Homo sapiens: one gene and its partners. The protein of the gene in region 5 purifies or fractionates together with the protein of the main gene of each other region. This does not show direct contact. Each region holds a gene or a part of one and is shown on either strand. Other genes may lie near its edges. The genes, in order: PGD, REXO2, ME1, PGM2, MDH1, SUCLA2 and LACTB2.

Evidence for each region.
Region 1: the proteins of MDH1 (region 5) and PGD fractionate together in Homo sapiens (co-fractionation; one large-scale study listed by BioGRID). This does not show direct contact.
Region 2: the proteins of MDH1 (region 5) and REXO2 fractionate together in Homo sapiens (co-fractionation; one large-scale study listed by BioGRID). This does not show direct contact.
Region 3: the proteins of MDH1 (region 5) and ME1 purify together in Homo sapiens (co-immunoprecipitation; one study listed by IntAct). This does not show direct contact.
Region 4: the proteins of MDH1 (region 5) and PGM2 fractionate together in Homo sapiens (co-fractionation; one large-scale study listed by BioGRID). This does not show direct contact.
Region 6: the proteins of MDH1 (region 5) and SUCLA2 fractionate together in Homo sapiens (co-fractionation; one large-scale study listed by BioGRID). This does not show direct contact.
Region 7: the proteins of MDH1 (region 5) and LACTB2 fractionate together in Homo sapiens (co-fractionation; one large-scale study listed by BioGRID). This does not show direct contact.

The regions. Positions count from the first base shown.
Region 1 is NC_000001.11:10,402,064-10,405,563, forward strand, and holds part of PGD (6-phosphogluconate dehydrogenase, decarboxylating), read left to right. Parts: intron 1-1,007; coding exon 1,008-1,073; intron 1,074-2,097; coding exon 2,098-2,216; intron 2,217-3,500. UniProt on the Homo sapiens protein: Catalyzes the oxidative decarboxylation of 6-phosphogluconate to ribulose 5-phosphate and CO(2), with concomitant reduction of NADP to NADPH.
Region 2 is NC_000011.10:114,442,467-114,445,966, forward strand, and holds part of REXO2 (oligoribonuclease, mitochondrial precursor), read left to right. Parts: intron 1-1,389; coding exon 1,390-1,467; intron 1,468-2,074; coding exon 2,075-2,186; intron 2,187-3,500. UniProt on the Homo sapiens protein: 3'-to-5'exoribonuclease that preferentially degrades DNA and RNA oligonucleotides composed of only two nucleotides. Binds and degrades longer oligonucleotides with a lower affinity.
Region 3 is NC_000006.12:83,228,552-83,232,051, reverse strand, and holds part of ME1 (NADP-dependent malic enzyme), read left to right. Parts: intron 1-3,120; coding exon 3,121-3,226; intron 3,227-3,500. UniProt on the Homo sapiens protein: Catalyzes the oxidative decarboxylation of (S)-malate in the presence of NADP(+) and divalent metal ions, and decarboxylation of oxaloacetate.
Region 4 is NC_000004.12:37,836,686-37,840,185, forward strand, and holds part of PGM2 (phosphopentomutase), read left to right. Parts: intron 1-843; coding exon 844-928; intron 929-2,887; exon of another isoform or gene 2,888-2,974; coding exon of another isoform or gene 2,975-2,998; intron 2,999-3,162; coding exon 3,163-3,246; intron 3,247-3,380; coding exon 3,381-3,500. UniProt on the Homo sapiens protein: Catalyzes the conversion of the nucleoside breakdown products ribose-1-phosphate and deoxyribose-1-phosphate to the corresponding 5-phosphopentoses.
Region 5 is NC_000002.12:63,595,463-63,598,962, forward strand, and holds part of MDH1 (malate dehydrogenase, cytoplasmic), read left to right. Parts: coding exon 1-57; intron 58-1,936; coding exon 1,937-2,112; intron 2,113-3,500. UniProt on the Homo sapiens protein: Catalyzes the reduction of aromatic alpha-keto acids in the presence of NADH. Plays essential roles in the malate-aspartate shuttle and the tricarboxylic acid cycle, important in mitochondrial NADH supply for oxidative phosphorylation.
Region 6 is NC_000013.11:47,987,774-47,991,273, forward strand, and holds part of SUCLA2 (succinate--CoA ligase [ADP-forming] subunit beta, mitochondrial precursor), read right to left. Parts: intron 1,209-3,500; coding exon 1,109-1,208; intron 931-1,108; coding exon 768-930; intron 1-767. UniProt on the Homo sapiens protein: ATP-specific succinyl-CoA synthetase functions in the citric acid cycle (TCA), coupling the hydrolysis of succinyl-CoA to the synthesis of ATP and thus represents the only step of substrate-level phosphorylation in the TCA.
Region 7 is NC_000008.11:70,655,686-70,659,185, reverse strand, and holds part of LACTB2 (endoribonuclease LACTB2), read left to right. Parts: intron 1-1,303; coding exon 1,304-1,430; intron 1,431-3,500.

The DNA of each region.
Region 1 (3,500 bases), on a different chromosome or scaffold from region 5:
AAAGCCCAGCCTGGTTGGTGTGCTGTAGGTAGATATTCATGTTCAAGGCTCTGTCTCTTCCTGACCTCCGAACTGTTGTCATAAAATCATTCATTCATACACTAAACCATTTGATATGTATTTACTGAATCCCCACTCTCTTCTAGACACATTATAGTCAGTGTTTAATCTGTATACTTACTTAAAAATAGAAATGGGGTCTTGCTATGCTGTCCATGCTGGTCTCAAATTCCTGGGCTCAAGCGATCCTCCTGCCTCAACCTCCCAAAGTGTTGGGATTACAGGTGTGAGCCACTGAGCCTGGTCAGCCCTAAACTTTTAAATAGTGTGCAGCTCTGGCCACAGAGAGGATTATTGAAGATTAAGTAGGCTGGGTGCGTTGGCCTCCTGCCAAGCCAGGAGGCTTTTAGCCCAGGAGTTTGAGACCAGCCTGGGCGACATGGTGAGACTCCATCTCAAAAAAAATTTTTTTTTTTTGAGACGGGGTCTCACTCTGTCCCCCAGGCTGGAGTGCAGTGTTGCGATCTCAGCTCACTGCAAGCTCCACCTCCCGGGTTCACGCCATTCTCCTGCCTCAGCCTCCCGAGTAGCTGGGACTACAAGGCGCCTGCCACAACGCCCGGCTAATTTTTCGTATTTTTAGTAGAGACGAGGTTTCACCATGTTAGCCAGGATGGTCTTGATCTCCTGACCTTATGATCCACCCACCTCGGCCTCCCAAAGTGCTGGGATAACAGGCGTGAGCCACCGCGCCTGGCCTACAAAAAAAATTTTAAAACTAGCTGGGCATTGTGGTTCAAGGAGTTCAAAGTTGCAGTGAGTCATGTTCACACCACTGCAGGAGTTCAGGGTTTCAGTGAGCCATGTTCGCACTCCTGCATTCCAAGCTGGGCAACAGAACGAGACTCTTTTTAGACTATGTTTATTTGGAATAAATTCTTGTTTGTTTTAATTTGCCAAGGTATGTTTCATTTTTGGTCCATCTTAATGCTGGTGTCTGGTTACAGGTACCATTGTTGGATACTGGTGACATCATCATTGACGGAGGAAATTCTGAATATAGGGACACCACAGTAAGTGTTCTTCAGTCCAGATTCTTCCAGGTTCCGAGAACATTCTAGAAAAAAGTGTCAGCATCGCATATGTGACAGTAGGGTGAACTGCCCTGTGGTACTGATTTTTTTGAGATTACTACTGATACAATAGTTCTCAGCCTTTTTTTCTGTTAAGACACACTTAACAGAAGGGCCGGGTGTGGTGGCTCACACCTGTAATCCCAGCACTTTGGGAGACGGAGGCAGGTGGACCAAGAGGTCAAGAGATCAAGACCATCCTGGCTAACATGGCGAAAACCCGTCTCTACTAAAAATACAAAAAATTAGCCTGGCATGGTGGCATGCGCCTGTAGTCCCAGCTACTTGGGAGGCTGAGGCAGGAGAATTGTTTGAACCTGGGAGGCAGAAGTTGCAGTGAGCCGAGATCATGCCACTGCACTCCAGCCTGGGCGACAGAGTGAAACTCCATCTGAAAAAAAAAAAAAAAAAAAAGACACTTGGTGGGTGAGATTCTCAGTCACACATACAACTCAAAGGATGACTAACTCAGATACAGCAGGCTGAGAATTACGTTTTAACTCCTCCCCTTCCCCTTCCAAGTAATCCATGATATGTCAGTCTATAACTGGTTTAGAACCACTCCTCTAATGGTATCAAATGCTGAGGGAATTCCTGTGTGCTCTGAAGTGCTGAATGGCATTAAGTTGTATTACACCTACTCTTCGTTGAGTCTTATTCAAGGTCTTTTCCAGTAAAATGCCAATGTGTGTTTGGCTTAATTATTTTACTTTGGGGATGAGGTAGGTATCGTGAATGTCCATAGTTGTATTGTTTTGTTTTTTAACTCCTACACATAGGGGATTAACTTTCCTGAGTCATCAGTTATTCCTAGATCCTTGGGTCATTTCCTGTAAATGTAGGCTCTCCATTCCTATCTTATACTTCCTCTCATTTATAAGGGAAACATTTTTGGGTAGCATAATGAAACATGGAAGCATAATGAAACATGGAAGCATAATGAAATTATTTTTCTGTCCTTCAGAGACGGTGCCGAGACCTCAAGGCCAAGGGAATTTTATTTGTGGGGAGCGGAGTCAGTGGTGGAGAGGAAGGGGCCCGGTATGGCCCATCGCTCATGCCAGGAGGGAACAAAGAAGCGTGGTGAGTGCCATCAGCACTGTGCCCATCTCTGTACAAGGGAGCTGGACTTTGAGAACGAATAAGCCAGGAGCAGTTCTGCCACCCTGATCTCTGTGGTGCCCTGAGTGTGACAGCTGGGAGATGCTGGCAATTTCTTTTATCTAGACATTTTGTTGCTTTGATATAGTATATGTGCACAATCCTCTTTTGCCTTTTTTCTTCTGTTATTTCTATCAAGACTGATACCTGACGTTCTAAATAGGCTTTTTTTTTTTTTCCCGCCCAGGCAGGAGTGCAGTGGTGAGATCTTAGCTCACTGCACCCCCCGTCTCCTGGGCTCAAGCAATTCTTGTGCGTCAGCCTCCTGAGTAGCTGGGACTACAGGCACATGCCACCATGCCTGGCTAATTTTTTGCCTTTTAGTAGAGACAGGGTTTCACCATGTTACCTTGGGTGGTCTCGAACTCCTGACCTTAGGCGATCTGCCCGCCTTGGCCTCCCAAAGTGCAGGGATTACAGGCATGAACCACCACACTTGGCCTCTAAATAGGCTTTAAGGAAGCAGTTTAGGTAATGTTCTGTGCAATGTCTGGATGTAGGAATAAGGTCTGCCTCTTTTAGCTGATATATAACCCAAAAGTAACTTAATGTGATAATCGTGGGTAACAGGCTGGGCATAGTGGCCCATGCCTGTAATCACTGCCCAGCACTTTGGGAAGCTGCGGTGAATGATCATTTGAGCCCAGGAGTTGAAGACTAGCCTGGACAACATAGCGAGATCCTGTTTCTACAAAAAAGTAAAACAAACATTTTTTTAATTAAAAAATATAAATTGGCCGGGCGTGGTGGCTCACGCCTGTAATCCCAGCACTTCGGGAGGCTGAGGCAGGCAGATCACCAGGTCAGGAGATCTAGACGATCCTGGCCAACATGGTAAATTCCTGTCTCTACTAAAAATACAAAAATTAGCCGGGCATGGTGGCGTGCGCCTGTAGTCCCAGCTACTTGGGAGGCTGAGACAGGAGAATTGCTTGAACCTAGGAGGCAGAGGTTAGTGAGCCGAGATCGCGCCACTGCACTTCACCCTGGCGACAGAGTGAGAGTTTGTTTCAAAAACAAAACAAAACAAAACAAACAAAAAATACACACACACACACACACACACACATATATATAAATAATTGTGGGCAATCCGATATATATATAAATAATTGTGGGCAATCCGCTTGCCCTGGCCTCCCAAAGTACTGGGATTACAGGCGTGAGCCACCGTGCCTGGTCTGAAATATGATTCTTTAAGGCTGG
Region 2 (3,500 bases), on a different chromosome or scaffold from region 5:
TTCGCAGAGATTACCAACACCAGTTTTCTTGTTTGGCTAAATCTCCTTTTTAGTAGTAGGATGTCAGGCGTATTTTAATTAAATTCTAGCCATTTCTTTCAGTGATTGTGAACTGTTTTTACCACCTTAGTAGTAATAATACCTTGGATTTATGGAATACTTTTCTATCAGAGAGTTCAAAGAGCTCATATCTATAATTTCTTTTATCCTGTTAACATTTCTATGAGGGAAGGGGTACAGTTTATTATTATCACTATCTTACAGAGGGAGAAGCTGAGGTGACTTGCTTTAATGCCGTAGCTACTGTTAACTGCCAGGACTTATCTGAGAGACTCATACTTGGATGTTCTATGAAATGGAGCTGAGAATTTGAGGGCTACTTTGTGTTTTGGATATCAACAATTACCTCTTTAATTTTTTTTTAAATATAAAAATACTGTTAAAACAGTGTAACTATCCAAAGTATGTGTGTAGTGAACTATTGGATTTTTGTCCTGTTCTATTGCTCCTTCTTACTCCAAGTTTATGTATTGTCTTGATATTTTGTATGTTTATATAAATGCGTGTTTTTTTTAAAACAAGTGTAAATGAAATCATACCTATACATACATGGTTTTGCAATTGTTTTTTTCACCTGCAATATAGATACTTTTTTTTTTTAAGAGATAGGGTCTCACCCTGTCACCCAGGTTGGAGTGCAGTGGCATGTAGCTCACTGTAACCTCGAACTCCTGGGTTCAAGTGATCTTCCTGCCTCAGCCTCCTGAGAAGCTAGGACTGTAGGGGTGTGCCACCAGGCCCACCTAATTTTTTTTTTTTTTTTTTTAATTTTGTAGAAATGAGGTCTTGCTATGTTGCCTGGACTGGTCTTGAACTACTGGCCTCAAGTGATCCTCCCACCTCGGCCTCCCAGAGTGCTGGGATTACCATGCTTGGCCTAGACACTTTTCAAAATGAACTCATAATCAAGGGTTGACAGACTTTTCTGGAAAGAGCAAGTTATTAAATTGTTTAGGCTTTGAGTGCAGTCATATGTTCTTGTCATATGTTCTTTTTTTTTTTTAAACAATCTTTTACAAATGTAAAAATCATTCTTAGCTTTCTAGCTATTAATAAATAGCTGAAGTGTGGGGCCATAGTTTGCTGACCCTTGATAGATATCTGTGTCATCTATTTGTAGGATTAGAGTTTTCAGTGGTGTGTGTATGTTCGTATGTTCTATTTTGCCTTAATGAACAGTGCTGGAATGAAGGGGGAACACTTAAAGTATCCTTATCTCTTACTTTCTCTGATATGTATATTTAGTCCTTAAAACAGCTTAAGCTTTCCCTCTGAAAGTAAGGTTATTCCTGTTGTTTCTTGGTGACTGATGGCGTTTCCCATCCACAGGGTCCTAACCTGATTATAAAACAACCAGATGAGTTGCTGGACAGCATGTCAGATTGGTGTAAGGAGCATCACGGGAAGGTAACATTACCAAATAACAGGATTGCTGCTTTGGGGATCAGTAGCAAGCTTTTTGCTCCCACACCTGAATCCGATACCATTGTTGGATGGTATTTTAAAAAGGCTTAGAGAAGATTGCATGGCAAGCCTGGGAAACTGCTTGCTTGTTTACTTTTCATCTTTGGGACCTCTCGAGATCATCTTCTCCTGAATGTCCTCTTTTTTTTCTCTCCTACATTCAGTCTGTCGCGAACGCATTGTGGATTGTCAAGTATTACTCAAGTCAGTCTTTTGGATAAGGTTAGACATCAACTTTCAGAGAAGGGGGATTGCTGCTCTCCTGTTAATAGTTGTTTCTTCCCAGAGGTTAATATCCTTGGACTTTGAACACCGTCTTTTTTGACTGTGGACATGCTATTAACAGTCAGGATCATAACTAAGTTGGCTTGGATTCTTGAAGAAAAAAAAATGGTGCAAAGATGGCAGTTGCAATTTGAACTTGAGCTCTAAAAATGGTCTATTTGTGGTTATATTTGCCCATTTTAAAAGTGAAATTTCATTTCTGGATGCCTTTGAAAACTGACTTTACATGTGTTTTTGGTGGGGGGCTGGGGATTCTCTCTTGCAGTCTGGCCTTACCAAGGCAGTGAAGGAGAGTACAATTACATTGCAGCAGGCAGAGTATGAATTTCTGTCCTTTGTACGACAGCAGACTCCTCCAGGGCTCTGTCCACTTGCAGGTAAAATCCAATCCTGTGTATATCTTATAGTCTTCCATATGTAGTGGTTCAAGAGACTGCAGTTCCAGAAAGACTAGCCGAGCCCATCCATGTCTTCCACTTAACCCTGCTTTGGGTTACACATCTTAACTTTTCTGTTCAAGTTTCTCTGTGTAGTTTATAGCATGAGTATTGGGAAAATGCCCTGAAACCTGACATGAGATCTGGGAAACACAAACTTACTCAATAAGAATTTCTCCCATATTTTTATGATGGAAAAATTTCACATGCACAGAGGAGTGGATTTAGTAATTGTTAACCTTGTGTCGTATTTGTTTTACCTATTTTTTGTTGGACATTTTAAAGGAAATTGCAGGCATCAGGACACTTCATTCCTAAATACTTCATCAAACATCTCCTAAGATAAAGACATTTTCTTATGTAATACAATGTCATTGCATTGAAGATAATTAAACATTATTCAGTATCATATGATATCTAGTCCACATTAGATGTTCCCCAAAATATTTGTTTTTGAACCAGGATTCAGTCAAGGCTCGTGCATTTCATTTAGTTATATTTCTTTAGTCTCTTAATGTAAAACTTTCCACCTATTATTTTTCCCCTGTGTCATTGACTTTCTAAAGAGACCAGGCCTGTTCTACCAGGATTTTTAAAAGGGTGACATTGCCAGAGGGAAGTTAATGTTTCTCTGAAGGTATATGTACGTTTGTATATGTAAGTCGATGTGGTAGCTAATACTGTTCTTAAACATTTATAAAAATAAGTTTTGGCATTAAGTACTAGAGCATATATTGTGTAAATGTTTCCGCCAGCCAATGTGGCTGATATCTGTTTTAAAGGTCTCATTTAAAATTTAGTGTTTTTAGTATAAGTTACTTTTTGGGGACATAAATATGCATATGATTTGTTTAAAAATTTGGATTGTAAATAAAGGTTTATCTACCTATGTGATTCAGTTAAATTTTTAGTGTTAGTGGTGTGAATTTTGTGACACTGGGAGAAAGTTTGCATATCAGGTATGACCTTAGAAAGTAACAAATAGATTTGTGCATTACATCAAGCATGTGGAATGATAGATTTGTCCTTCTGTTCATGAGAGGTCATTTACAAATTTATAAGGAGCTAAACTGACTAAGTACTTGGAAATCTGTACTTGTAAGCTAATCACATTTACCCAAACCTGATTTAGAAATATAGAGGTGCTTTTAGGAATTGTTTGAATTTTAAAAAATCATCTCCATTTCAAATACAACTTATGAATTTTGATATCCTGTTGTATAATACTAGAAATATAGAGATGCAGTATGCTTC
Region 3 (3,500 bases), on a different chromosome or scaffold from region 5:
GGCAGCCTTTGCCCCCATTCTCCTCCCTATGCCCACTATAAACATGTGCTTTTGAAAAGGTAGTAATTAAATCTGGTTATATCTTCTACGATATAGTAAGAATCATCACAATATAAAGGGATAGGGGAGATTAAAGTAATAATATCACAAATAAAGTTTCAGCTATCCATAATATGTTTGAGGTAATTAGAGACTCTTGAAAAAAACAGAGAGAGAAAAGATGCATCATAGAATTTGGGATTTCTGAGGTGAGAGGTGCCCACATGCACTTTGCCAAAAGAAGGCAAAAGGATTTCAGCAAGGGATCCTGAAAAGGGAGAATGAAGGGAAAAGACATCTACTCATCTCCATACCAACTGAAGTTATTGGCATAACGAATATGTATTCCAAATCAGATTTTGAAAAATAAAGAAAAATAAGCCATTAGTCTAGAAAATAGAAGTCCAAAGGTACAGGTAGTTGCCTCAGTATTACCGGATTTAGAAAAGGTTGTCACATTCCAGTAGTTTCTTTAAACTAGGTCATCAAGTCAATTTTGAAAATGGTAGAGAACATACTTGGGAGACATTTTGTGTGTGTGTCTTTTGCTTCTTCTGTTTTGTCAAGTAAGACCTTCAGTATTGCTAGTATTACCATTTCGTGATTCCTGGACTTTTTTCAGCATTCTTTCAGCACTTGTAAGTCATACCAGGAATCAAGCCTTTGAAAGTGTTGCCATGGGTAATTTATGCTTCTTACTAGATGGAATGTCTTCTGGCTAAGTTCTGGCTTCAGTGTCTAGGAGCTGCCAGTGGGTATACTATGATTAATAAAGATGTTTATGATTAAGTATATATCTTTTTCTTTTCATACATTATTCATCTGTCTTTTTTATTATTTGTTTCCCATTCTAGGCAATTTAAATATTTTTCATTATATCTCAGCTTGACAGCCAAAAAAGCTGTGACTTCCAATTTATCTTATTCTATAGCTTTTCTTCTTTAGACTCATTATTGTATACTTTTTTGAAAACATAGCACATAACCTCTTAAAAACGCATGTGGTAGGGATATGATAGATCATTTAGTACACTGATTCTCAAAACTGGCTAATCATTTCTTTTTTTTATTTTTTATTTTTTTGAGACAGAGTCTCGCTGTCGCCCAGGCTGGAGTGCAGTGGTGTGATCTTGGCTTACTGCAAGCTCTGCCTCCTGGGTTTATGCCATTCTCCTGCCTCAGCCTCCTGAGTAGCTGGGACTACAGGCTCCTGCCACCACGCCCAGCTAATTTTTTGTATATTTTTAGTAGAGACGGGGTTTCACCGTGTTAACCAGGATGGTCTCGATCTCCTGACCTCGTGATCCGCCCGCCTCAGCCTCCCAAAGTGCTGGGATTACAGGCATGAGCCACTGCGCCTGGCCTACAGCAGATTATTAATAGGAGAAAATATACCAAAACTTTAAGTGCTGGAATTATGATTTTTTTCTTCTTCACAAAAATTTTAATTGCAACAACAACTAGCATAGAGCTCTTACTATAAACCAGGTACAGTCCTGAGTGTTTTACATGCATTACATTTCATTTACCCCACAAACAACCTGATGAGGTAGAAGTCCTTATTATCCTTATTTACAGATGAGGAGACAAGCACAAAGAGGTTCATATGTTTCAAATTTTTTAATAATTCAGTATATTGCTTTTAAAAACAGAGCCTGTCTCTACTAAAAATATAAAATTAGCCGGGCACATGCCTGTAATCCCAGCTACTTGGAAGGCTGAGGCAGGAGAATAGCTTTAACCCGGGAGGCGGAGGTTGCGGTGAGCCGAGATCGCGCCACTGCACTCCAGCCTGGGCAACATGAGCAAAAACTCTGTCTCAAAAAAAAAAGACAAACAAAACAAAATTAAAAACAACAACAACAACAACAACAACAAAAAAAAACAGAGCCTGGCATGGTGGCTCACGCCTATAATCCTAGTGACTCAGGAGGCTGAAGCGAAAAGATCACTCCTGAGGCCAGAAGTTCGAGACAACCCTGGGCAATATAGCGAGACCCCCATCTCTAAAAAAAAATGATAAATTAGCCAAGCATGGTGGTGCATGCCTGTAGTTCCAGCTACTAGAGAGGCTTAGGTGGGAGGATCCCTTGACCCCAGGAGTTCAAGGCTGCAGTGACCTCTGATCCACAGCACTCCAACTTGCATGACAAAATGAGACCTCATTTCAAACAAACAAAAGCAACAGAAATAAAATGATAATACCCTTTAAAGAAAGAAAATTGTACTATCTTCATTATTAACAATTTGCAAAGACTATGACATACTATTTGTTAAGTTTTTGCCCGGGGTGATTCTGTGCTATATTGAAAAGGCTTTGAGTTCTAGTACAATCTCTTGCCTTGAGCAAGTCCCTTAAAACCTCTGAACATGTTTCCGCATATGTAAAATGACTATACTTATACTTGTCCTGCTTCTCAGAATTGTTGAGGGGATCAAATGAAATATGTGAAAACAACTTGTAAGTCATCAAGTACCATATAAAATTAGGCAGTGATCCATTATGTAGTCAAATCTTTAAAATTTGCAGCTAGAATATTATAATTAGATGTTTACTAGATAACACATGGCGCATTCATAATCAGAACATTAAAAACAAAAACATATAAAATGCATACTTACTGAGAAAATCTAACAATGACATAAATATGACTTCAAATTCTTTTCTTAGTCAGTAGCATAAATTGGTAGGGCTAAAGCTGAAGCCAACTCCAAATTCTGAGACCTGCTATAAAACACAATGTGTGACGAACAATATAATTATTTAAATTATATTTTGCATGGCCATTTGTTAATGCTAGTTCTCACATGTCTGTAAAATTAGGATTTTTAATATCAATTAAATGAAGGACTTTGTTTTGTTCACTGTTACATCTCCATTGCCTAGAACATTGACATATAAATATTTGTTAAACGAATGAATGAAATAACATTCTGACAATTGAAGAAGAGATTTTAAGAATAGCTGTAACACATCATACATAAAAATGTTAAGCATAAATATTTGTAATATATGTACCGAAATTTATTGACCCTCACATGTTTGGCAGATTCTTAATTTTTTCTTACTGGCTTTACTTAGGGACGTGCTTCCTTAACACAAGAGAAAGAGAAGTTTGCCCATGAACATGAAGAAATGAAGAACCTAGAAGCCATTGTTCAAGAAATAAAACCAACTGCCCTCATAGGTAAGCATTTTCTCCTCTCCCTTCTCCCCTACCCCTTATTTTGACCTGATTGTTTTTTTTACTACCAATTTTTGAGGTATAATTTAGCCTTTTTGAATTCAAAAAACTACACGTTCGCTCAAGCGACAGTACCCTGTAGAGACCTAGATTTTTAACTTTAGTCCTGTCGTCTTTCTCTTACTGATCTGAGATGAAGCGTATGGCCCCCTCCTCTAACTCAGCCTGTTAATACCTGGCACGTTCAGCACTTTTCTAGGCTTGATTACTCCAGATA
Region 4 (3,500 bases), on a different chromosome or scaffold from region 5:
TCTAAGTAAATCGCTCATTTATTTGTGGTAACGTATTTTACACCAGCTTGAAGGAAGATTTGATGCCATTTTCTGCGTCTTACCCTAAGCAAGTTTCTGTGGAAGTTGAGAAAAATGTCAAAGAATTAAGTTTTCTTTCAAAGGCTGATTGGAACCAAGATGTATATATGTGTATGGGTGTGTGTGTGTGTGTGTGTATACACACATGCGTACTCCAGGATGTCTTTATATTTCAAATAAAGCAATCTCTAATCAAATTCCAGTCTGTGTGGTGTACGCTGGATTGTGATAGGCTTAGGCTGGGATTTTCAGCCTCTGCACTGTTGACATGTGACTGCACAGTGGCTGGATGATCTTTTGTTGTGGTTGTAGGGTACATTGTAAGGTGTTCAGCAGCACCCCTGACCTCTCCCTACTAGCTGCCAGTAGCAACTCTCTCCATTTCCCAGCATGACAAGCAAAAATGTTTCGAGACATTTCAGATGCCTGGAAGGAGAAGGTGCAGACTTGCCCTGGCTGAGAACCACTGAGATAGACAGAGAGCTGAAAGGCCAGGAAGCAGCCTGGCTCTGCCACTAAGTGGCTGTTAGAACCGGGGAAAGGGGCCTGACCTTTCTTGGCTTTAGTGCCATTTCTATAAAACAAAAGAGTGAAATGAGATGACTCCTGAGAGTCCTCCAGCTTTACTGTCCCATGCCAGGGTAAAGATTATAATAAATGCTGTCCTTGATCTGGATGCTGCATTCACCCTAAAGAACATTCAGCATTCATTTCCTTCTTTCCATCACTCACAGTCCTGATCACTCAACTCTCCTTTTCTTCCCTGTCACTCTGCATTCTCAGGTTTGCCCGACTTGCTGCAACCACATTTATCAGTCAGGGGATTCCTGTGTACCTCTTTTCTGATATAACGCCAACCCCCTTTGTGGTAAGTAGCCATTTCCTTTCATAATTTCCTGTCACATGATCAGGGATGGGACTTGGCTGAATTTTATAGTCTTTAGGGCTATTGGGATTGGACTGTTTGAATGACAGAGGAGTTCCTTGGCATGTATGAGACATTTCCTTCTCTCCTGGAATGTTTCTCCCACATCTTAGTAATATTTCTCTGGTATTCAACTTTTGATTCATTGGAATTGGTTTTTTTAAATTGCAGTTTTCCTTTTCTTTGCATTCTAAGGGTATTCGAGAGAGTCAGCAAATTTTTTTTTTTGAGACAGAGTCTCGCTCTGTTGCCCAGGCTGGAGTGCAATGGTACGATCTTGGCTCACTGCAACCTCCGTGTCCCGGGTTCAAGCAATTCTACTACCTCAGCCTCCCAAGTAGCTGGTATTACAGGTGCCTGCCATCACTCCCAGCTAATTTTTGCATTTTTAGTAGCGACGAGGTTTCACCACGTTGGCCACGCTAGTCTCGAACTCCTGGCCTCAGGTGATCCACCCAGCTTGGCCTCCGGAAGTGCTGGGATTACAGGCATGAGCCACCACGCCCGGCCTTTTCTCTGTTTTTAAATTTGGTTTGTAGTTCTTTTTCTCAGCTATCACAATTAGGAAACTTCTTGTGTCGAAATCTGAATTCACCTCAAACCCTGTCTTGTCATGAATATTTTTGACAAGCTGGCACACCCCTGTTTTATACAAATGTTTTATTCTAAATACTATTCATGGCTAGTACAGAGAGCATGCTCGGCATATTTGAGTAAGACTTTCATCAAATCCTTCATGTAGCACAATCTAAAGAAGAAGACAGTAGGGACTATGACAGTTGTTGCTTTGACATAGACAAAACTTTTAAGAGCTGGGCCAGATGCTGAGAATATGTTTTGGAAAATGTGATTTGGATGCAGTTAGTCACATCTAGTAGAAATGAGACTGTATTGCTACAGAAGGAGGTTCCAATTCATTTTGTGTTTGCCGGCTCTAGTGCACTGACAGGTAGATGCAGCACCCCTAGGCTGTAAATAACCTGCTAGACACTCTATTCACATCTAAATGTAGTTCAGGTTTCATTGTTTGATGGAAAAATTGTCATGTATTCAAGCATCCTAATTACCTTCTGTACTAAGTGTTAATAGCTATTAATTTTATGTCAGACATGAATTGAACCAGTGTATCATGATCCTCTGCCCACACTGAGGAGTCGTCCTCCCCTTTTCTTTGGCCCAGAACACCTGAGAGATGTGACATAACTTCCAGGGTGTTCAATGACTGCAGTGATTCTTGGTGAAAGGGTGGAGGGGACGGACAATTTAAATCTCAGGTTGCCTGTGTGTAATCAATGTCATTTGCCACAGTAGGGGGAATAATCCAACCCCTTCTCCCATTTTGGGAAGTAGTAGAGATGGGAGCTAAGTTGAAATATAAATATTTAACCCTGGAGTGAGAGATAAATGAGGAACCTGTAAGAGCATTCTCCATTCCCTCAAATTTTTTTTTTTTTTTTTTTTTTTTGAGACAGAGTTTCGCTCTTGTCTCCCAGGCTGGAGTGCAATGGCAGGATCTTGGCTCACTGCAACCTCTGCCTCCCAGGTTCAAGTGATTCTTCTGCCTCAGCCTCCCAAGTAGCTGAGATTACAGGCGCCCATGCCTGGCTAATTTTTTTGTATTTTTAGTAGAGACAGGGTTTCACCATGTTGGCCAGGCTGGTCTTGAACTCCTGACCTCAAGTGATCCACCTGTCTTGGCCTCTCAAAGTGGTGGGATTACAGGCGTGAGACACCACCCCTGGCCCCTCAGTGTTTTCCTCAATGTTTTCCTTAAAAGCAAATGAGAAAGGAGGAGAGGGAGAAGCAGTTGGAGGGAGTAAACTGAATCCACAAACTTCTGTCTCAGGTAGAAGCATTGAAAGCATTGGAATGGAGGCTTAGACCATCGTTGTGTTTGAAGAATTTTCTAGCTCTACCAAGTAGAAGATGGAATGAGAAGGCACTGAGGAAATTACTCACCTTTCTTATTAGGAAATACATCCTGGAATTATGAGCAGCCAGTTAATTCTAAGGGTAATTGCATACTGCTGGGGTGTGGCTCAAAAATATTATGCTATTTATATATTATGTTTATTAAAAGGGAGCAAGTTGGCATGAACAGTATAAAATAGACATTTTAAGAATATCTGGTTATTTTCGTTAAAAACTGTTTGTTCTTGTTTCCTGCTATGTTACAGCCCTTCACAGTATCACATTTGAAACTTTGTGCTGGAATCATGATAACTGCATCTCACAATCCAAAGCAGGATAATGGTTATAAGGTATTTTCCTTTTTCTACTCCACACGTACATCCTTCTGTAGGAATCCTGTATCTGTAATTTTTGGGACCATAGGTAATAGGTGCCTTATTTCCATTAACTGTAAACCTTCTGAATGTGTTCCTGGGTCCTCTAGGTCTATTGGGATAATGGAGCTCAGATCATTTCTCCTCACGATAAAGGGATTTCTCAAGCTATTGAAGAAAATCTAGAACCGTGGCCTCAAGCTTGGGACGATTCTTTAATTGATAGCAGT
Region 5 (3,500 bases):
GTGTCCTGGACGGTGTCCTAATGGAACTGCAAGACTGTGCCCTTCCCCTCCTGAAAGGTGGGTTGGGGAGTAGAGAAGGGATTTTATGGTATTTGATTTCTTACAAAATACAGGTTTTAGGTTTTTGTTAAAGGCTCTCAATTAGAAATTATTTCATAAGAGGATTTTTTTATTTTGAACTACCACTGTTTATTAACTACTTATGTATACCAAGGATAAATAAGGGTAAGAAATGAGCAACAATCAATGTCAGGTAAAGGACTATCCTTTTTTCCCCAATGTGTGTGTGTATATAATTTATTATACCAGTTAAGTGTAATATTGCACAAGGGTTATACACCTGAAATTGTCTACACACACACACATTATAGACAACGTAGGAATTGTCTACATTGTGTTGTTATGGAGTCTGCTTAACTGGTAATAGTAGCATCCTGTAATGGAAAACTTTCTCAGTTTTGAAGGATGTCCTTCATAGCTATACATTGCTCTGGAAGTTGGTTGGTTCCTCTTACACGGTCCCCATCCCATCTACCAATCATCAGGTTGAGACATAGTGTAAATTGTCCTTACCATATGCTCTATAGTTTGAAAAAACCCAGAAGAGCTCAGCTAAGGGCCTTTGCAAATCATTGAACTATAACACAGATATAATAAGGAAGCCTTAAATTTGATCGAAAAGTTTATTAAAATATTCTAAATTAATTTAAATATTTTTCTTCAGCTATTTCTTCATCATAGTCTTTCTTTTGGTAAGGATTAATTAATGATACTCTCCTAGAAGTTTGCACAAAGCAAAATAATACATACCTTCCAAGAAAAACTTTCCTTAAAATTCTTCATCTGTTGAATAAACATTTGCTAGAAGGGATACTCTGCCATCTAAGTCTTTTGGTTGCAAAGTTCTGTGGAAGAATACATGACTGCCCACACTATTCTGTTGGTTCCCTTTTCTCACCCACAGCTCTTTCCAAATCAGCTTTGCTGCTTTTTCCCATTTGTATTCCTTTCTCTGCTGAGTTCCCTGTGCTTTTTCTCTAAAGGGCCCAGATTGCTGTTGGTTTGTCCTCTGCCAGATATGAATATGACAGGGAAGGGAAAGTTCAGCAAATAAGGACATGTGACTGGGAAAGAGGAAGATAATTTTTTTTTCTCCAACTGGTGTTCCTGTCTATGCCCATTTTCAGACTTATGGCAGCCTTGACTATGATGCAACTAGCCAATTTTCCAGTGAAAATGCTGAATGTTGGTCATAGCTTTTTTAATACAATCAACAAAGAAGTGCGATGACTTATGTTCTTTAGTCAAAAAGCAAGTGATGTTTGCTTATTGTACTAGCACTGGAGCATAGTGGTTGAACTCTGGACCAACCTAGGCTGGAATTACAGCTCCATTATCTTTTGATGGTGGCGAGTTAATCTCTTTAAACCTCAGTGTCTCCATCTATAAAATCAGAAGATTAAATTTGATAGTAATATAAATCTCTTAGCATTATCCTGGCACAAAACTCCTCAATAAACATTTATTATTTTTAAATTTGTGATTGGTGTCTTAGACCTTAAAGTAATTGTAATTTAAAGGTTAGGTGAATTAGTTGCTCTTTTGTGTTGTGTGGTAATTAGTGTGAATAACAAGTGTCACTTCAAAAGTCATCATTATACCTTGCATCATATATGATTATAAAAGATAAAAGCTATGGAGTTTTGACATTTAAGTAATTATTGAAACAGGAAAAGCAAAATAAATCTATTGACATTTCTAATGTTATGATTGTTAAATTAATATATTATCTTTCTCAGGCTCCTGAAATGTATATCAGTGTGATATGTAAACACTTGCAACAAGTGAAAGAATTAATGGGTAGATTCAATATGAAAAAGAAAACTTCAAACTTTGATGTTTAAGTAGCTCTGCGTATTTATTGCCATGTCCACAGATGTCATCGCAACAGATAAAGAAGACGTTGCCTTCAAAGACCTGGATGTGGCCATTCTTGTGGGCTCCATGCCAAGAAGGGAAGGCATGGAGAGAAAAGATTTACTGAAAGCAAATGTGAAAATCTTCAAATCCCAGGGTGCAGCCTTAGATAAATACGCCAAGAAGTCAGTTAAGGTGACCAATGCTGTATTTTATGGGATTTTTCATTATTAGCATTTGAAACTTATGCTTTTAGCATTTAAGCAAAACCAAAATTATTTGCCCTTTTTTCTAGTTCTGTACAATCATCAGTAAATACGGCTCTAGAGTTTTGCTTGATAAGCTCTCCCTTTCTGGGTTTTTTCTTACAGTATAGAAATCTATATTCAGAGTGCTCAAAAATATTTTTCCTATTAGTATAACGTGAAAATTTAGTATTAGTTCTTAAACATATAGAGAAGGCACAGGATCTTCTGGTGCATTTTTGCTGCGTGGGAATATTTATTTAGACATTTAAATTTGTGTGTGATTGTGAAAGGAGATAGCTAGCTGTAAGGTAAGTTTATTCTCAGGAATAGAAGATAGTGGTTTCTGAATGCTCAGATTTTCTTAATGCAGAGGAATTTTAATATGCTTGTCTCTTGAAGAATTGAGTCAGTATGACTTATAGTTCTCTCTTTGTGTTCAAACTATTTACTTTAGATTCTAATATGTCTTAATATTACAGTAAGCCTTTTTTATTTTTTATTAATTTTTTTAATTTTTTTGAGACGGAGTCTTGCTCTGTCACCCAGGCTGGAGTGCAGTGGTGCAATCTTGGCTCACTGCAACCTCTGCCTCCCGGGTTCAAGCGATTCTCCTGTCTCAGCCTCGTGAGTAGATGGGACTACCGTTGCACGCCACCACACCCAGCTAATTTTTGTATTTTTAGTAGAGACGGGATTTCACCATGTTGGCCAGGCTGGTCTCGAACTCCTGACCTCAGGTGATCCACCTGTCTTGGCCTCCCAAAGTGCTGGGATTACAGGTGTGAGCCACCACGCCCAGCCAAACCTTCTTTTATTAGTGAACTATCAATTAACTAGAACTTAATTGTCACCCAGCAAATAGGCTTGCCGGTTAAAGGTTTAACTGATTTCCATATACTTTCCTATCTTTCAAAAAAAGGTGAAAGAAAATTTTTTAAGATTTTTTAAGTTGCCCATTATAATGTTCTATCAATAACATTTCATAGATATCTGCATTTTTTGCTTTCTGTGCACTTCATTTTAAATAGTTAACTTATTTTCTGTCATCACAGAAAATAGTATAAATGAGTTTAATAGAAATCCACAGGTGCCAGTAAAAGATTAGAAGATTGTTCAGACTGCTAAATTGCAGGCTATTTGGAGGTAAAGTACTCCTTGCACAGTAATTCCACTTCTTCAAAGCGTCCTTGTTCGTGAGAAATATTTGCCAGCACTGCACTACTTAGAGACAATGAAGTATCTTGTCTACAGCTTGTCAAAAGAGGTACCAAAAAAAAAAAAAAAAAAGATATATGGGAGTCAGTCTCTGTAATATGGTTGTAACTTTTCTATAAA
Region 6 (3,500 bases), on a different chromosome or scaffold from region 5:
TTAATGTTCTACATGAAATCCGTACTGGGGCTTTCAAATATATACCCAGTTGCTTCAAAAAACAAGCTAGTTAACACACAGATTCAGCTTGTAAAACCTAATACCCTCGAAAAACAGATAATTCTAGTATAAAATGATTATCAATGCTCTCTTCCAAACACCAGGTCTATAAAGGGATTTTCTCTTCACCAGAAGCTTTATGTTCAACATTTTAGGTTCCATAAAGAGAGGAGAGCTGTGCTAATGTAATACTCCTTAAAACCATATTGTTTGCTACTTAATGTCATCCCTCAATTTACCAAATATTGAATCATATAGTGAAACAAACCCGAAACTATTAAAAAAAAAAAAACAAACCCAAGAAGTTGAGAAAACAGAAGATGAGGCAATGGATACACATTCTTCTAGTGGGTTCAGCAACTTTCTCTTTCATTAGAATATTTTACTATGCTAGATATAATTTTCTCAATCTGGAGATGATCCAGAGATGATTTAAGCTGCTTTTAGTGAATTAACAATTTGAGAATCCCATGAAATTTATTACAGCAGAATTTTTCCTATAATTTTAAGATCATGATATTATATATCAAATTTTACGGCATTAAAGAAGCTGTTTTTTAAATGACATAAATATCATGCTCATGACATACAAACAGATTATAATTTGTACTTTTAAAATCTTTCCCACATAAATAGAAACAATAATGGACTTTTGAAATTGAATGTCATAAATTTATCCCGTATGTATCATGTCTACAATTACTCACTTGAAATGACCTTTCCATTGTTATTGCAAAGTAGTATTCTCTCCTGGGATATTTTCGCTCACAGACCAATACTTGATTGCATATTCTGCCCTTTTCTCCCGTTTGCTTGGTAAACAATTTTTTCCCAATCATTTGTGAAGAAACAGCTTTTGCTTCTTCTGGACTAAAATAAGAAAAAGAACTCAAATTTTTCTTTCCTCCAGTTGAGAAAAAGCAAATCCACATAATAGCCAAAATTTTATCTCATCTAATATTTAAATTTCAGTATTTTCATCAATTCAATAAGTAATCTTTAATCAGTCTTTAACAAGGATGATTTTTCCTTAAAAAATGTGACTTACGAGAAAACTATCTTCACTCCTCCTTTGAGGCCACTTTCAAATGTTCCTTTTCCTCTACCACCAGCTAAAACCTGTGCCTTTATCACGACATCTTTTGAACCTAGAAGAAAAACACTTCTATTAAATATGAAGCATGGAGCAGCATGCCAGACATAGTATTTTGTTATTTAACATACATATTGACAGGTGTTATTAAATCAAGTCTAATTTATTCACAATGTCCAAAAATAAGGCATTCTCTTTATGTAGATTTTCTAGATTAGAACACTAAAATAATCACTGTCTAAAAGGCCCACAATTTTCAAAATTCGTCACTTACATTAAACCATTTCTTTTTTTTTTTTTTTGAAACAGAGTCTCGCTCTGTCGCCCAGGCTGGAGTGCAGTGGCGCGATCTCGGCTCACTGTAAGCTCCGCCTCCCAGGTTCACGCCATTCTCCTGCCTCAGCCTCCCGAGTAGCTGGGACTACAGGCGCCCGCCACCATGCCTGGCTAATTTTTTTGTATTTTTAGTAGAGACAGGGTTTCACCATGTTAGCCAGGATGGTCTCGATCTCCTGACCTCATGATCTGCCCACCTCGGCCTCCCAAAGTGCTGGGATTACAGGCGTGAGCCAGTGCTGGGATTACAGGCATGAGCCACCGCACCTGGCCACATTAAACCATTTCTTAAAAGTAAACTGAAAATAATTTAACCATTTCTTGACACTTTGGAAAGTGTCATCTAGAACTCTGGAAAGTATCAAAAGTACAAAATTGAATTTCATGTCTTCCTAACACGTCCCTCCCTCTCTATTCACATGTAAACTTGCTGTCCTGAGAACATCTGAGTTATATCGCTATAGCAGGAATATGTCATGATTTGGGGGATATTACCATTACCAGTATTGATACTGATTTATACTGTCCCACTAAGAGAAAGTTCTATTAAAATACATTATTGAGCAGTACTGCATGAGTAGTACTATCAGGAGTTATTAAGGTATCTGTATCAAAAGATTTCAGAATTCTATGCTTGCAAAGCTTATGCATATTTTTAAATAAATGGACTGAATTTTTCTTCTTTAACAGGTAGACTGATTACTATTTATCCCTTTTCCTCTCCTTTCTAATTTGCTGTGGAAAACCAGCAAACTGGCTGTTTAGCCTAGATAGTACTCATCATTCATGATCAAGAGTAAATGGGCCCGGTGCGGTGGCTCACTCCTGTAATCCCAGCCCTTTGAGAGGCTGAAGCAGGCGGGTCACATGAGGCCAGGAGTTCGAGACCAGACTAGCCAATATGGTGAAATCTCATCTCTATTAAAAATACAAAAATTAGCCAGGCATGGTGGTACATGTCTGTAATCCCAGCTACTTGGGAGGTTGAGGCACAAGAATCACTTGAATCCGGGAGGCGGAGGTTGCAATGGGCCAAGATTGTGCCATTGCACTCCAGCCTGGAGGACAGAGCAAGGCTGTCTCAAAAGAGTAAATGCTCTGGGTGATGGGTATCCTAAATGCCCTGAATTGATCATTACACACTCTATGCATGTAACAAAATATAACATGTACCACAAAAATATTATGTATCAGTTAAAAAAAAAGAGTAATACCTCTTAGAAAGGCATTCTCTGTGTACCAGACAGGCAGAATTCAGAGCCTCCTCATTTTGCCTCTCATAGCATTTTGCCCACACTGGCAGGGTGGCACCAACTATACATTATGGCAAAATAACCTTTGAGATCAGGGCTAAAGGTCTCACTGTATTCATTATATCCCAAGCACAAGGAAGTCTCTGGGATATAACAACTACTCCATAAACATGGATTTGAACAGACTGAAGTAGAGTCCTCTACAACTAGGATGTCACTCCACGATGCATTTATCAAGCAGAATGAGAGGAAGCTCCCACCTAATCAGATGAACCAACCAAATCAATGAGGTAGGAAATGGAGTTTGAAACCAAACAAAAACAACCTAAAGTTTACACATTAACAATTATTTTAAAAGAACATTTAGAAAATTACTGATGTAAGCCTTCACCAGAAATACATGCTATTTAAACCAGATGATGACCCTATGCGTAGTCAGCCAAGAGAGTGTTTAAAAAACTTGTCTTTCTCAAACCCCACTTCCATTCAGCCAGGAAATCATACTGGTTCTATCTTCAAATTTATCCAGAATCTTCACCATTCCTCATCACCTGCAGTTTAGACTCTGATCCCAACCACCACTATCTCTTAACTATATGACCTTTGTCCCCCACAGAATATTCTCAAGGCAGCAGCCAAAGCAGGCACACCATTCCTCTACTTAAAACCTTGCACTGAATGCCAGTCTCACTCAGTTAAATGCCAAAGTGCTTACAATGGCCTAGAAGACCTTATAATACCCTCTACACTTTTTATCT
Region 7 (3,500 bases), on a different chromosome or scaffold from region 5:
TTGTAAAAGGCAATTTGAGACCCTTTCTGATCTGAGCTTATCTTACCTATCCAACTTTATCTCCACTCTTCCTAGCCAGTATTTTGCAGTAGAAAGTTGGTAGCATTATGTTGTCACACATATGTCATGCTCATTCTCATTTTAATGCTTTATTTTTTTGAGACAGAGTCTCGCACTGTCGCTCGGCCTGGAATGCAATGGCGTGATCTTGGCTCACTGCAACCTCCGCCTCCTGGGCTCATTCGATTCTCCTGCCTCAGCCTCCCGAGTATCTGGGACGTTAGGTGCACACCACCACACCTGGCTAATTTTTTTGTATGTTTAGTAGAGATGGGGTTTCACTATGTTGGCCAGACTGGTCTCGAACTCCTGACCTCGTGATCCTCCCACCTTGGCCTCCCAAAGTGCTGGGATTACAGGTGTGAGCCACCACGCCTGGACTTAATGCCTTTTCTAATGCTGTTCCCCTTACCTGCAAGTCCTTCTCTGTACCTTTACCCATCCTGCTCATTCTGTAAGTCACACCTCAAGTTCTATCATATTTATAAATCCTTTCCTAACTCTCTCTGAACTCCTGCTGCCTTTATTAGCCGAATTGTCCATTTAATATTCATTAAATGGTACCAAGTATAGTTCTTTGTTTCATGTTTGTAAGTTTTAGTTTCCCAATCAGGACAGCTTTTAAGAACTTTGATATCACAGTGGTTGTATTCAGTATACCTAGTATACTGGTTAGTTAATTGGCACTCAATTGTTAATTGGTTAATTAATTTATTTTCTTTGTGTCAGTGAAGGGTGGTATAGATTTAGCTTATTTTAAAGGTTTAATATCTTAGCCACTGGTTTGGGGCTTCATTTCAGTACTTGTAGCAAGGACCTCATGCTTTCGTTATTAATTAATGTTTATCCTTTTGTTATTAATTACTGTCATGACACCTTTGCTACATGTTAGGCACCTGGATAGAGAAGAGTTTCCAGGTTCTGTATTAGTGCCTCTTCAACACTTGTCAGGATGCCGAAGCTAGCTACTTTTAAATTTTTTGTATAAACTAGGACTGACTCAAAAAATAGAGGCTTTCATGTAGACCTAGAGGGGCATGAAAGAATGAAGAGCTGTTTGGTTGAAAGATATGAAATATTTACATCCCAGAGATAACCTGCTGTAATTCATCCCATTTTCTGTTGTCTCTTAATGTTAATATTTTATGCAGTCATTCACAAGTGTTAGCTCTATGAAAGTTGATCTCTTAAAAGGCTTAATTATAAAGTGTGAATTAATATATTTTATATGTTTTATGACTAGACACTACCTATTGCATTAAAAAACTCCCACGGAATCCTCAGAGAGAAGAAATTATAGGAAATGGAGAGCAACAATATGTTTATCTGAAAGATGGAGATGTGATTAAGACTGAGGGAGCCACTCTAAGGTAAGTAAATGTCCCTTAGCCAGGGAAGGTGAAGAGTCTGTGTATGTGTGTTATAGAAAAGGATGGAAGGATCCCAGCATTTTGGGAGGCTGAGATGGGAAGATCGTTTGAGCCCAGGAGTTCAAGACCAGCCTGGGCAATACCAAAAAAAAATTTAATTAGCTGAGCATGGTGGCACATGCCTATAATCCTGCTATTCAGGAGGCTGAGATGAGATGATTGCTTGAACCTGGGAAGCAGAGGCTGCAGTGAGTCAAGATTGTACCACTGCATTCCAGCCTGTGCAACCGAGTGAAACCCTGTCTCAAAAAAAAAAAAAAAAAAAAATAGAAGATCTGTGCATATGTGCTGGTATGTGTAAAGAGTACATCAGGAAGGATACAAAAGAAATCCAATAAACATTGCTTACTCTGGGAGGAGAAAATGAGTTGCTTGAGAAATGAGAAAAGAAAGACTTCACTCTTTATTAAATTGTTTATTTGAATCATATGATTACCATTGTTTTAAAAAATAAAATTTACACTTTAAAAAATAAGTGTTGTCTCCCAAGGAGGCTTAGGGATCTACCTATCAATTCAATTCAGGGCTTTCCCATATTCTCACTTCCCAAAGATGACCCATACCTAAATTAAATAAGTTTTAGGCCTGACCGATCATACCTCATGACCTATCTGAGGGTTTCAAAATGGTATTTCAAACTCAGTTATTGTAAAACTGAACTCCTCTCTCCCCCACAATCTGCACCTGTTTTCTGATCTCAGAACATCCACTTTTCTCAGTATGTAAGACTTTACTCATTCTTCTAAGACAGAGGCTTCAGGATTACCTTGCACTGCTCTTCACCTTTACCATCCCCCTCCCCTTGCCCACCACACTAATCAGGTTAGTTTTTACATCAAAAATATTTGTCAGCTGACACAAACAAATGGAAACACATCCCAAGTTCATCTCTGGGTAGGATCAGTATTGTGAAAATGACCATACTGGCAAAAGCAATCTACAAATTCAACACAATCCCCATCAAAATACCACCATCATTCTTCACAGAATTAGAAAAAACAATTCTAAAATTCATATGGAACCAAAAAGAGCCCACATAGCCAAAGCAAGACTAAGCAAAAAGAACAAATCTGGAGGCATCACACTACCTGATTTTAAACTATACTGTAAGGCCATAGTCACCAAAACAGCATGGTACCAATATAAAATAGTCACATACACCAATGGAACAGAACAGAGAACCCAGAAATAAACCTAAATACTTACAGCTAACTGATCTTTGACAAAGCAAACAAAACCATAAAGTGGGGAAAGGACATCCTTTTCAATAAATGGTGGCGGGATAATTGGCTAGCCACATACAGAGAATGAAACTGGATCCTCATCTCTCACCTTATACAAAAATCAACTCAAGATGGATTAAGGACTTAAACCTAAGACCTGAAACTATAAAAATTACAGAAGATAACATTGGCAAAACCCGTCTAGACTTTGGCTTAGGCAAGATTTCATGACCAAGAACCCGAAAGCAAATGTATTAAAAACAAAGATAAACAGTTGGGACTTAATTAAACTAAAGAGCTTTTGCATGGCAAAAGGAACAAACAGCAGAGTAAACAGAAAACCCACAGAGTGGGAGAAAATCTTCATAATCTATACATCTGACAAAGGACTAATATCCAGAATCTACAATGAACACAAATCTGTAAGAAAAAAACAAGCCCATCAAAAAGTAGGCTAAGGACACAGTTCTCAAAAGAAGATATGCAAATGGCCAACAAACATGAAAAAATACTCAACATCACTAATGATCAGGGAAATACAAATCAAAACCGCAATGCAATACCACCTTACTCCTGCAAGAATGGCCATAATCAAAAAATCAAAAAACAGTAAATGTTGGTGTGGATGCGGTGAACAGGGGACACTTTCTACACTGCTGGTGGGAATGTAAATTAGTACAACCACTATGGAAAACAGTGTGGAGATTCCTTAAAGAACTAAAAGTAGAACTACCATTTGATCCAGCAATCCAGCTACTGGGTGTCTACCCAGAGGAAAAGAAGTCAT